3 linked regions of the Homo sapiens genome follow. The protein of the gene in region 1 purifies or fractionates together with the protein of each later gene. This does not show direct contact. Each region holds a gene or a part of one and is shown on either strand. Other genes may lie near its edges.

Region 1 (3,656 bases):
TCCTCACAATGACCAAATCCCTTTTGGATACATCCAAGACTTGACTTTGCGGGGGCAAATGGGAATGATATCCAGGGACCAGTGCTGGACCCCCTCCTAGGCTGTTTCATCCCCTGATGATTCTAGGACAAGAATCACCAGCCATTTCTATTTTGCAAAAGGGCTCTCATGAGGAGTAAATAATGAGACATGACTGTGAAAAACACGCACAAAATCTCTTAGAATACGACAGAGAGCATCTACTGCCCTGTATGAAAGTGGTTGTAGGTTCATTTTTATCTTTGTGTATATTGTTCTGCACGTAAAGAGGTGAAATTCCAGGGGAATAAGGATGGCCAAGTACTGGGGTTGGTGTGAGGTAGAGAAAGAAAATAGCTTTCAAATGTTTTCTTTCTAAAAAGTTAAGTATCATCTCTCCGATGCATGAATTTTATTTAGGATGATGATTTAAAATGTTAAATTAAGGTATTTTTATATTGTTGGCTGATTTGTTAACACCCTCTTGAATGTTTGTATAAGGTGTGACATTTGAAAGGTAAAAATCCATGCATGTTATTGGATCAGATTACTATAATTCCTATAGAATGAGAACAAACTGCAGAGGTCAGCCCTGACTTTCAAAAACAAGGGACACCTGACTTTCTGGCACTGCCAACTTCAGAAGGGTAGCTATGGGGCTTAAATGAGATGGTATATATAAGTCACTTACAAAAGTACCTGGCTTGGGAGGGGAACAACACACACTGGAGCCTGTTGGGGGTGGGGAGAGGGAGAGCATCAGGATAAATAGCTAATGAATGCTGGACTTAATACCTACATGACGGGTTGATAGTTGCAGAAAACCACCATGGCACACGTTTACCATGTAACAAACCTGCATGTCCTGCACATGTATTCCAGAACTTAAAATAAAAATAAAAAAGAGAGTGCCTGGCTCATAGTAAATGCTTAGAAAATGTTAACTATCATCACCAGAGTTAGGAAATTATTATTTGACACATGGATCTCCACAATGAATGAATGGGAATGAAGGAAGAAAATGAGTATTTACTGAATATTCACTGGGGCCACGTGAAAGATTTTCGACATTTTGACTCTCTTCATCCTCACCCAACTTTGCAACATCATTGTAGATGACTGTTTAGGGTTCTTCAGCAAACTAGTGGTTGAGCCAGAATGTACTGCCCATGCTATGTTAGGCAGATTTGATCAGTGTTTCAGAGTAACATTTTATTGTGAACTAATTATGCCACGCACTCCATAAGGTGAGACCATATGCATATGCTCGAATTGCACTGGGCAGCTAATCTACCACCTCATTAAGCTGTCTCCAAATGAAAGAACAGATCAAAGCATAACATGAAAATGACTTATGTTTATTTATGCACATAAATCCAGAAGGGGAAAAAAATCTTCATGCAGGGAAAATCTTCTAAGGAAGACTTCTCACTCTGGAAAAATTATTAGGTATAGGTGTCTTTGCCATCCTCCACTCTTTTCTTCAATGCCTAATACCTCCTAGTACACTAACATCCTCAATACATTTATTCATAAAGTCCCTTTCACTCACAAAGTATTAACTAAAGTGGGTCGGGTGCAGTGGCTCACACCTGTAATCCCAACATTTTGAGAGGCTGAAGGGGGCAGATCACTTGAGGTCAGGAGTTTGAGACCAGCCTGGCCTGTTTAACATGGTAAAACTTTGTCTCTACTAAAACTTCAAAAATTAGCTGGGTGTGGTGCGCACTTGTAATCCCAGCTACTTGGGAGGCTGAGGCTGGAGAATCACTTGAACCCAGGAGATGGAGGTTGCAATGAGCTGAGATTGCACCACTGCACTCTAGCCTGGGCAACAGAGCAAGACTGTTTAAAAAAAAAAAAAAAAAGAAGCGTCTTAAGGTAGTAATCCTTTCAGCACTAGATGCATTTTAAATCAGGATTTTGAGTGACATAAAATCTTTAAGACTCTAAAGGAGGTAAGAAATCTGTAATGCTGGAATTCTAGGAATTATAAGATAGTAAGGGAGAATTTGGGGACAGGATATTGTCCTAGACCTTTCAAAATATACCAGATATTCCACCTTTGAGTCAACTAAGGGAACTGGGCTTTTAAAAACATCAATTTCTTGACCTATTTAGTTTATGAACTATTTCTTATAGCCCTGTGCTATAAAAACTGGTTTTCTTTTACTGCCATGATATGTACCACCCTTTTTTTTTTTTTTTTTTTTTGAGACGGAATCTCGCTCTGTTGCCCAGGCTGGAGTGCAGTGGCACGAGCTCGGCTCACTGCAAGCTCCGCCTCCTGGGTTCACACCATTCTCCTGCCTCAGCCTCCCGAGTAGCTGGGAGTACAGGCGCCTGCCACCAAGCACAGCTAATTTTTTTTTTTTTTGTATTTTTAGTAGAGACAGGGTTTCACCGTGTTAGCCAGGATGGTTTCAATCTCCCGACCTCGTGATCCACCCGCCTCGGCCTCCTGATATGTACCACCTCTTTTAAAGATGTTCATTAAAAAAAAAAAAAAAAAAAAAGTTTAAACATGTGTTGCTTTCATCTGTACTTATTTGGCCCAGTGGGGTCAATAGAGAACAGAACACTTCCCCTTAGGTAACTGCTATGGTCTGAATATGTTCTCCCAAAATTCATATGATGAAGTTTATTTGCCTCCAGAAGACACATCAACAAGGCACCATGTTGGACACACACAGACATGGATGTCACCAGACTCTGAACCTACTGGTGCCTTGATCTTGGATTTCCCAGTCTCCAGAACGGTGAGAAATAAATTTCTATTCTTTATAAATTACCCAGTCTCAGGTATTTTGTTAGCAACAAAAATGAACGAAGATAGTAACTAATAATTACATATTTGGGGCTCCAGATTTTCTTCCTAATGAGAAATATTTAGGTACTTAAATTATCCTGCATTCATATAAGCCTATTGCTCTGTGCATAGGAAATAGTTCATTTTCAGTTTCCATAAGTGCTCTACTCTGCCTTCTCCTCACCCCAGCCTCACCAAAATCTTCCTAATAACAATCACTCCACGTCTTTGGTTTGTTTAAAATCTCCTTTCCCTACCCAGTGTTGTATTTTGTCTATAGTAGATACTCTATACAAACTGTTTTGTTACTATTTCAGAAATTTGAAACATTAAAAGATACTTCTTTTAATCCTCAAAAAAATATATAAATTTAAATTGGTAGCAGGTAGGTCTTTTTAGGAGGAAAAAGACCTGTGATTCAGGAACATTTAGGAATATTAACTCTGGGCACATGATCAAAAAGTAGGGTCTGTTAAAAGTCATTACAAGAGGCTTGGCGTGGTGGCTTACATCTGTAATCCCAGCACTTTAGGAGGCCAAGGTGGGAGGATTGCTTGATCTCAGGCTTTCAAGACCAGCCTAGGCAATATAGCAAGATCCCACCTCCAAAAAAAAAAAAAAAAGCTAGGTGTGGTGGTAGATGCCTGTAGTCCCAGCTACTTGGTAGGCTGAGGTGGGAAGACTGCTTAAACCCAGAAGTTCAAAGCTGCAGTGAGCTGTGATCATGCCACTGTGCCCCAGCCTGGGTGACAGAGTAAGACCTTGTCTCAAAAATTGCCATTGTAACAGTATTAAGAGGTGGGACCTTTAAGAGGTGGTTAGGTCATGC
Region 2 (3,656 bases), on another chromosome or scaffold:
CATGGCCCAATAATAAAGTGTGTGTGTGCACAACTGAAAAAGTTTTCATCTAAAATACTTTCTTACCAGGTACAGTGAACCCTGATATTTTTATTCAAGTCTAGTCTCTCTTCATTTTTATGAGTTGTTACAGTGGGACCATTTAGTGTGACATTCCATTGGGTCATTCTCTGCAATTTGAAATACAGTGGATTAGGACTAGGTGAAGGAGTCAGCCATCAGGAGGAAGGACACCTTGGCCTTGAGTCTTCTGGGACAAGGCTTAGGTGGGGTGCGGAAAGAGACCCTTCTTTATTCTCAGCACCCTTTATACCACATTCTCCTGGCTCTTCTCCTTTCCAGTCACCTTTTCTGCTCCTCTTCCTTTTCTGGATAAATCCAGGTGTTCTCTAGGACTCTTCTCTCAGTGCTTCTTTGGTCTTGCTGCTCTACCCTCTTGACCTGGGCTTTCTAAGGTACCCATGGCCTCAACCACCACCACAGTCTAACAAGTCCAAATCTCCTGTATTATTATTTCAGAGTAGCAGCATCATAGCATCACTGTCTACATGGTCTGATCCATCCTCCTCCTTTATCCCCTGTGTCCAATTAGTGACCAAATCCCTAATTAAGTCTTGCCCCCTGTCTTAGTCTGTTTTATGATACCATAACTGAATACCACAGACTGGGTAATTTATAATGAACAGAAATTTATTTGGCTCATGCTTCTGGAGGCTGGGAGGTCCAAGATTGAGGAGCTGCATCTGGTGAGGGCCTTCTTGCTGTGTCACCTCATGGTGGAAAGTAAAAGAACAAGAGAGCTTAGGCAAAAGAGGGGGTTGGGAGAAAGAAACCAGACTAATCATTTTATCAGGAGAACCCACTCCTGCAATAACAGCATTAATCCATTTGTGAGGGCAGAGCTCTCATGACCTAATCACTTCCTGAAGTTTCACCTCTCAATACTGTTGCATTGGGGATTATGTTTCCAACATATGTACTTTGAGGGACACATTTAAACCACAGCATCTCCCATTCTATTCCACCTCCACACTGGACTCCTACTCCCAGTCTTTGCTCCCACTGTTCTTCAGTCCATTCTCTACCCTGCCACCAAAATGACTTTTGTAAAGAGAAATCTACTCTTATAACTTGTCTTTTTACAAACCGTATACCTTGCCTACAGGGAGGCCTGAGCTCCAACTTTTGCCAGAAGGATGAGGTTCAGAGACATGATTTAGCTTAATAAGTTCAAGGTTTTTTACAGTCTGACCCCATGCAGCCTTTTTTTTTTTTCCTTTTGTTTTGAGACAGTCTCATTCTGTCGCCCAGGCTGGAGTGCAATGGCACGATCTTGGCTCACTGCAACCTCCGCCTCCCAGGTTCAAGCGATTCTCCTGCCTCAGCCTCCCCAGTAGCTGGGACTATGGGCTAATGTTTGTATTTTTAGTAGAGAGGGGTTTCACCTGTTGGTCAGGGTGGTCTCGAACTCCTGACCTCAGGTGATCCACCCGCCTTGGCCTCCCAAAGTGCTGGGATTACAGGCGTGAGTCACTGCACCCGGCCACCAAGCAGCCTTACCTTTGTCAGTTTCTACTACTACTCTCTTGGACAAATTGTCTTTTGTGTCTCCTTGCTTGTGTCCTCCTTTTCTCTTACACAAACTCCTTATTTCGAGATCCAATTCAGATGTATCTTCCTGTTGAAATTCCTGTCATTTTTGGTGATGCCCCTTCAGAGTTTTCGTTCCTTCTACTGCATTTCTTTTTTTTTTTTGAAACAGAGTTTCACTCTTGTTGCCCAGGCTGGAGTGCAATGGCGCGATATCAGCTAACCACAACCTCCACCTCCTGGGTTCAAGCGATTCTCCTGCCTCAGCCTCCCGAGTAGCTAGGATTACAGGCATGCGCCACCACACCCGGCTAATTTTGTATTTTTAGTAGAGACAGGGTTTCTCCATGTTGGTCAGGCTGGTCACGAACTCCCAACCTCAGGTGATCTGCCCACCTCAGCCTCCCAAAGTGATTCCTTCTACTGTATTTCTATAGCAGACATCTACTGTTGCTACATCCATGGTTGAGCTCTCTTCAATGTTCTATAAGCATCTCTTGACATAATGTTTGAGACCTTTCTTGTGAACAGGGCCATATCTTAGTAGTCTGTGTACCCAGCAACAAAACATAGCTATCAGGCACTCAGAGGTACTGTTAAATATACTTACTTAATAAGAGGCAGATATGAATCAAGAGGACAGAGATTTTATATTAGGCTTATAAGCAGGTCTTCATCAAAATGATGGTGTCAGGTTGGGCATGGTGGCTCATGCCTGTAATCCAGCACTTTGGGAGGCCAAGGCATGCGGATTACCTGAGGTCAGGAGTTTGAGAGCAGCCTGGCCAACACAGTGAAACTCTGTCTCTACTGAAAAAAAAAAAAATTAAAAATTAGCCAGGTGTGGTGGCGGGCACCTGCAATCCCAGCTAATCGGGAGGCTGAGGCAGGAGAATCGCCTGAACCCAGGAGGCAGAGGTTGCAGTAAGCTGAGTTCGAGCCATTGCACTCCAGCCTGGGCAAAAAGAGTGAAACTCCGTCTCAAAAAAAAAAAAAAAGGAAGTGATGGTGTCTGCTTCTTTTGCAGTGATCGTAAACTTGTTGATAAAGAAGATATCGACACTAGCAGCAAAGGAGGCTGTGTCCAACAGGCTACTGGCTGGAGGAAAGGGACAGGCCTGGGATATGGCCATCCTGGATTGGCTTCATCAGAGGAGGTAAAATGGTTTCCATCTTTTGGGGGGTGACATGAACCTGGAATGTAATTAACTTTCACTTTCTGGCCTAGAGTGATGTCTTTGCCATTTTGCTGGGCTTTCTCTACTGCTGGGATAGGACATGAGAGTTGAACACTTTAGCCTTGAATACTGGGTTATAGCTTGGCAGGCTGGGCCCTTTGCAGTTTGGAGTTAGGAAGAGAAGGAAGGAGTTGGAATGGATTTCATCATACTTTTACATGGAGTAAATAGTAGAGCAGTATCTGAGGCAGTTTGAGACTGAAGAATCATTTGGGCAAAAGAACCAGGGAATCAGCAATGAAAGGTACAGAGGCATCTCTGAGAGGGACTGTCAGCGGAAGTCTTTGGTGGCTAAAATTTAAGGAGCATGTTGTTCTGGTTCCCATGAAGGACTTTGCCCCTCATATTTCAAGAGCCTCTAGAAAAGGTGATAAGAGGAAACATTACCCATTTTGTGTTGGCTTGCTTCTCCTCTGAAAATGCCAACCATAAGAGATTGGCTTATTTCTCTCCTACCGAGTTTCTCATATCTCTGGTATTAAAGCCTGTATCTTGCAATCATAGCATCACCACCCACCTTAATTCATCTTGGGTATTTGTTTAATAATGAAAGATTCTTTTCTTTTTTTTTTTTTGAGACAGAGTCTTGCTCTGTCGCCCAGGCTGGAATGCAGTGGTGCGATCTCAGCTCACTGCAACCTCCTCCTCCCAGGTTCAAGCAATTCTCCCACCCCAACCTCCTGAGTAGCTGGGATTACAGGTGCATACCACCATACCCAGCTAATTTTTGTGTTTTTAGTAGAGACAGAGTTTTGCCATGTTGGCCAGGCTGGTCTCGAACTCCTGGCCTCAAGTGATCCGCCCACCTCAGCCTCCCAAAGTGTTGGG
Region 3 (3,656 bases), on another chromosome or scaffold:
TGGCTATGACGTAAGCAGGGTGGGGATCAGCAGAGTCTTGTCGGCAAGTTTCAAGAGCTTGGGCTTTGTCTTGAGTGCAATAATGTAGCCTTGAAAAATTTGCAGCAGGAAGGGATGACACAGGCAAGGGAGACTGGTTAGGAGGCTATTGAGTTATTTAATATGAGAACGCAGTGGTAAAAGGGTGGGCTTTATCCATTCTCTATTAGCCTCCTCAAATCCATTTCAGATAAACTTAAGTTTAAACAGAGTATTTGCTGAACAAATTCAACTTCAGATACACCAGATCCCCTTCCAGTCCCATTTCCATATATCCCTATATTTACATACTCATTTTTGAGGCAGAGTTGAACCTTTGAATAAAGCAGTCGAAATTAAAAGTTCAAAAATACATTTCTTATATACTTAGTTGGTGATGATTTGTAAATACGAGAACTATATTCTTCTTTATAGGACTACATTGAGTGTGCCGAAAAATTATACGATGCCAAAGTGGAGCGAGTTGACTTTACGAATCATTTAGAAGACACTAGACGTAATATTAATAAGTGGGTTGAAAATGAAACACATGGTGAGTATTGAAATACCCTATTTTTCTACAAGATTTGTCAGTTATATGTGAATACTGGGAACAAAAGCTGGGAGTCTTTTGTACATACAAGGAACAGCTCCTCCTAGTTCAAAGTAATGATTGCTGCTACTTAAAATTGCTTTAGTATTTGTCTGCAATGTGGTTTGGAATAATCTTAATAATTTGAATGCTTTGTACTTTTCAGAAGTTCAGTCTTTTACATTATCTCATTTAATTGGCAAAACCCTGCAGGACAAACATATTATTGTGACCACTTCATATATGAATAACAAGCTGAGTTAATTTGATAAATTAACCTCAATATCTCACCCTCGTTAGTGAACAAAAACTAAGAGTTATTATTTTCTTATTACTTTCAATGACCACATTATTATTTTCAATGACCACAGCATAACATTTCATTTAATAATCAACCTATTTTTTAAAGATAGGGCTGATTTTCATACTTTATAATTGCTTTATGGACTGAATCTTATTAAAGCTATAACATTCTACTGTCAAAGAAATGTATTTTCATGATATTGCTTTTTCCAAGGATGTATAGTATATCTCTCATTTAAAAATGTTCTTTATTTACCAAAATAATTTATGTAACAAAGGTAGTACCTTCCAGAAAAAGTACAGCTCTTTATTGGTAAGTCTCTGTCACAACTAAAAACGTAATTCCAGCTAATGTTCTGGTTTAGTGCAAAGCAAATAAAGAAATTTATTAATCCTTGCTTTGTTCATCAACCAATTCCAAAGCTAGTAGTTGTTTCATTACCTAAGGGTTGGCCTTGATTTGTACTCTAAATATTGTACCTGTATTTACTAAGCCTAGCTGTGCCTCAGAAATATGATATAATATATCTTGCACTTTTAAATGCAAACTTTCAGCAGCATACACTTAGTCCTGGGACTAAGAATGCAGTGTATAAATTTTCTTTTTATTCATTCATTCCTCATTATATTCATAGTGGGTTACTTTGATGTTTAGCCATCACCTGTTTCATATATAGCACTTATAAATCAAGACAAACTATGTAATTATTACTCTTCTAAAATCTAGGTGGGATTCTATTTAATATTTAACATAAGGGTGTCAGATTGCTAACAACTTTTTCTATTTAGACTAGTTATTTATTTCTCTTCCTTTCTCATGTAAATCTATGCATAATTACTCTAATTTTTCATAAGCATATCTACTCAATATTTATTTGAGGAAGCACTTTAAAATGTTGCCAATATTCTAAACAACCCTACCCAGGTCTTGAAGCCCACATCCTCTACACAATATCAGAGCCATCCTTTTGAAAGGCAAATCAGATCCATCATGACCATGACCTTTCTTGTCTTTCAATGAATCCTGAGCAATTATTTCCCATCATCTTCAAAATAATCCACAATTCTTACCAGACATTCAAGCCTCTTCATTATCAGGCCCTTGCTTCCAATCTTGCCAACCTTATTCTCCCCGACAAATACACCTTGCTCTTTCAGGTTTCTGTGCCTTTGAATAAATAGTCTCTGCTTTATGGAAGCTCTTCCTGCTCCCCACTGTTCTTCAGCTAAAGCAGATAGCCACAGAAAAAGTTGGGTGACTTTAATCTGTGCTCCCACAGTGCACTGAGGTCAGACCTCTATGTTACTGGTGGGTTACAACTGCTCTTTGGATGTTGACTCTTCTGTGCTGGACTGGGAGCTCAATGATGGCACAGGCTATGTCTTTCATATTTGTAATTCAAATATGCAGAATAGTGCATAGCATCCAGCAAAAATTTCATTTATGTGGAATGAAGGAGGGCATTACCTTTCAATGGATTGAAGTACTGTAGTAGCAAAAGGTGGCCTAGTCAATGCAGTAAAGGCACTTTGGTACCTATGAGCAGGGACCCTGGGGTTGTCTCCCTGGGTTGGAATCCTATTGCTATCACTTTCTTGTTGTGTGTCTTAATCTCTTTGTGCCTTAGCTTCCTCAACAGGAAATGGAAACAATAATAGTGCCTACCTCACAGGGATTATGTAAGGATTAAACCAAAGATTGCCTTTAAAGGGCCTAGAAAGTGCTGGACACATTAATTGCTCATAGGTTATTCTTAATATTCTTATTGGTGTTATTATGTGTTAAGAAAAAAACTTCATACCAATTAATGGTCTTTTTAAATCATTTTTAAAATTATATTAAAATAAACATTTTTCCCTCAATTTTTTTTTCAAAAGGCAAAATCAAGAACGTGATTGGTGAAGGTGGCATAAGCTCATCTGCTGTAATGGTGCTGGTGAATGCTGTGTACTTCAAAGGCAAGTGGCAATCAGCCTTCACCAAGAGCGAAACCATAAATTGCCATTTCAAATCTCCCAAGGTATGTCGTCAATCTCCTATTTAATTTAGAACTTTTCCACAATCGTATTCCTTTGCAGGACTGTGATAGTTACATAGTAAACTCTAGGTTCACCGTTTTAAACCCATTTCTTCTTTTGCATTACCAATATCATATGGTCAGTTGCTTTATAAAGCAAACTTTCTATTTTCCCTGTCATGCAGGCTATGAAACACCACCAAACGTGTCTTGTAAATTGGTATTCTTTAAAATACATTCAAAATTGAAAGAAGTGGTATGAATGTATCTTAAGATATTATAATTGGAGACCTATAAGAAAATATATGACAAAAGTGTATTTTTCATTTTTCATTTTTTTAACCATGAGGTCTATACTTAAAATCATTTACCATCAATGATTTTCCTGAGTCACAGCAGGGAATGTGTTCTCTTTTGCAAGGGGAAAAGTTATATTTAGTAAAGTTATGCATTTCCAAGTACAAGCCATATGTATTTCTTCATTTAGTTCTGTTTTTGATCTAAAACATCTTATTGCCAACCTTTATAAAACATATATTCTTGGGTTTTAAAATCAATTTGTACACAGTAATCTTAGTACAGCAGAAACAACAAAGCTCTTGCAGTCAGGAATGTTGTATTGGGGCCCCTGCCTTGCTTCACAGAAGCTGCATTCCTGTTTCATGTGTTATTCTTTTTCTCCTAATTTCTTTTTATTTTAAAAAGCATTACTATATCATAATATT

What was found.
Region 2: the proteins of EPHX4 (region 1) and RBM6 purify together in Homo sapiens (affinity purification with mass spectrometry; one large-scale study listed by BioGRID and IntAct). This does not show direct contact.
Region 3: the proteins of EPHX4 (region 1) and SERPINB7 purify together in Homo sapiens (affinity purification with mass spectrometry; one large-scale study listed by BioGRID and IntAct). This does not show direct contact.

Annotation. Positions count from the first base shown.
Region 1 is NC_000001.11:92,032,876-92,036,531, reverse strand, and holds part of EPHX4 (epoxide hydrolase 4), read right to left. Parts: intron 1-3,656.
Region 2 is NC_000003.12:50,072,584-50,076,239, forward strand, and holds part of RBM6 (RNA-binding protein 6), read left to right. Parts: intron 1-2,589; coding exon of another isoform or gene 2,590-2,596; exon of another isoform or gene 2,597-2,611; intron 2,612-2,617; coding exon 2,618-2,747; intron 2,748-3,656. UniProt on the Homo sapiens protein: Specifically binds poly(G) RNA homopolymers in vitro.
Region 3 is NC_000018.10:63,795,813-63,799,468, forward strand, and holds part of SERPINB7 (serpin B7), read left to right. Parts: intron 1-453; coding exon 454-571; intron 572-2,791; coding exon 2,792-2,934; intron 2,935-3,656. UniProt on the Homo sapiens protein: Might function as an inhibitor of Lys-specific proteases. Might influence the maturation of megakaryocytes via its action as a serpin.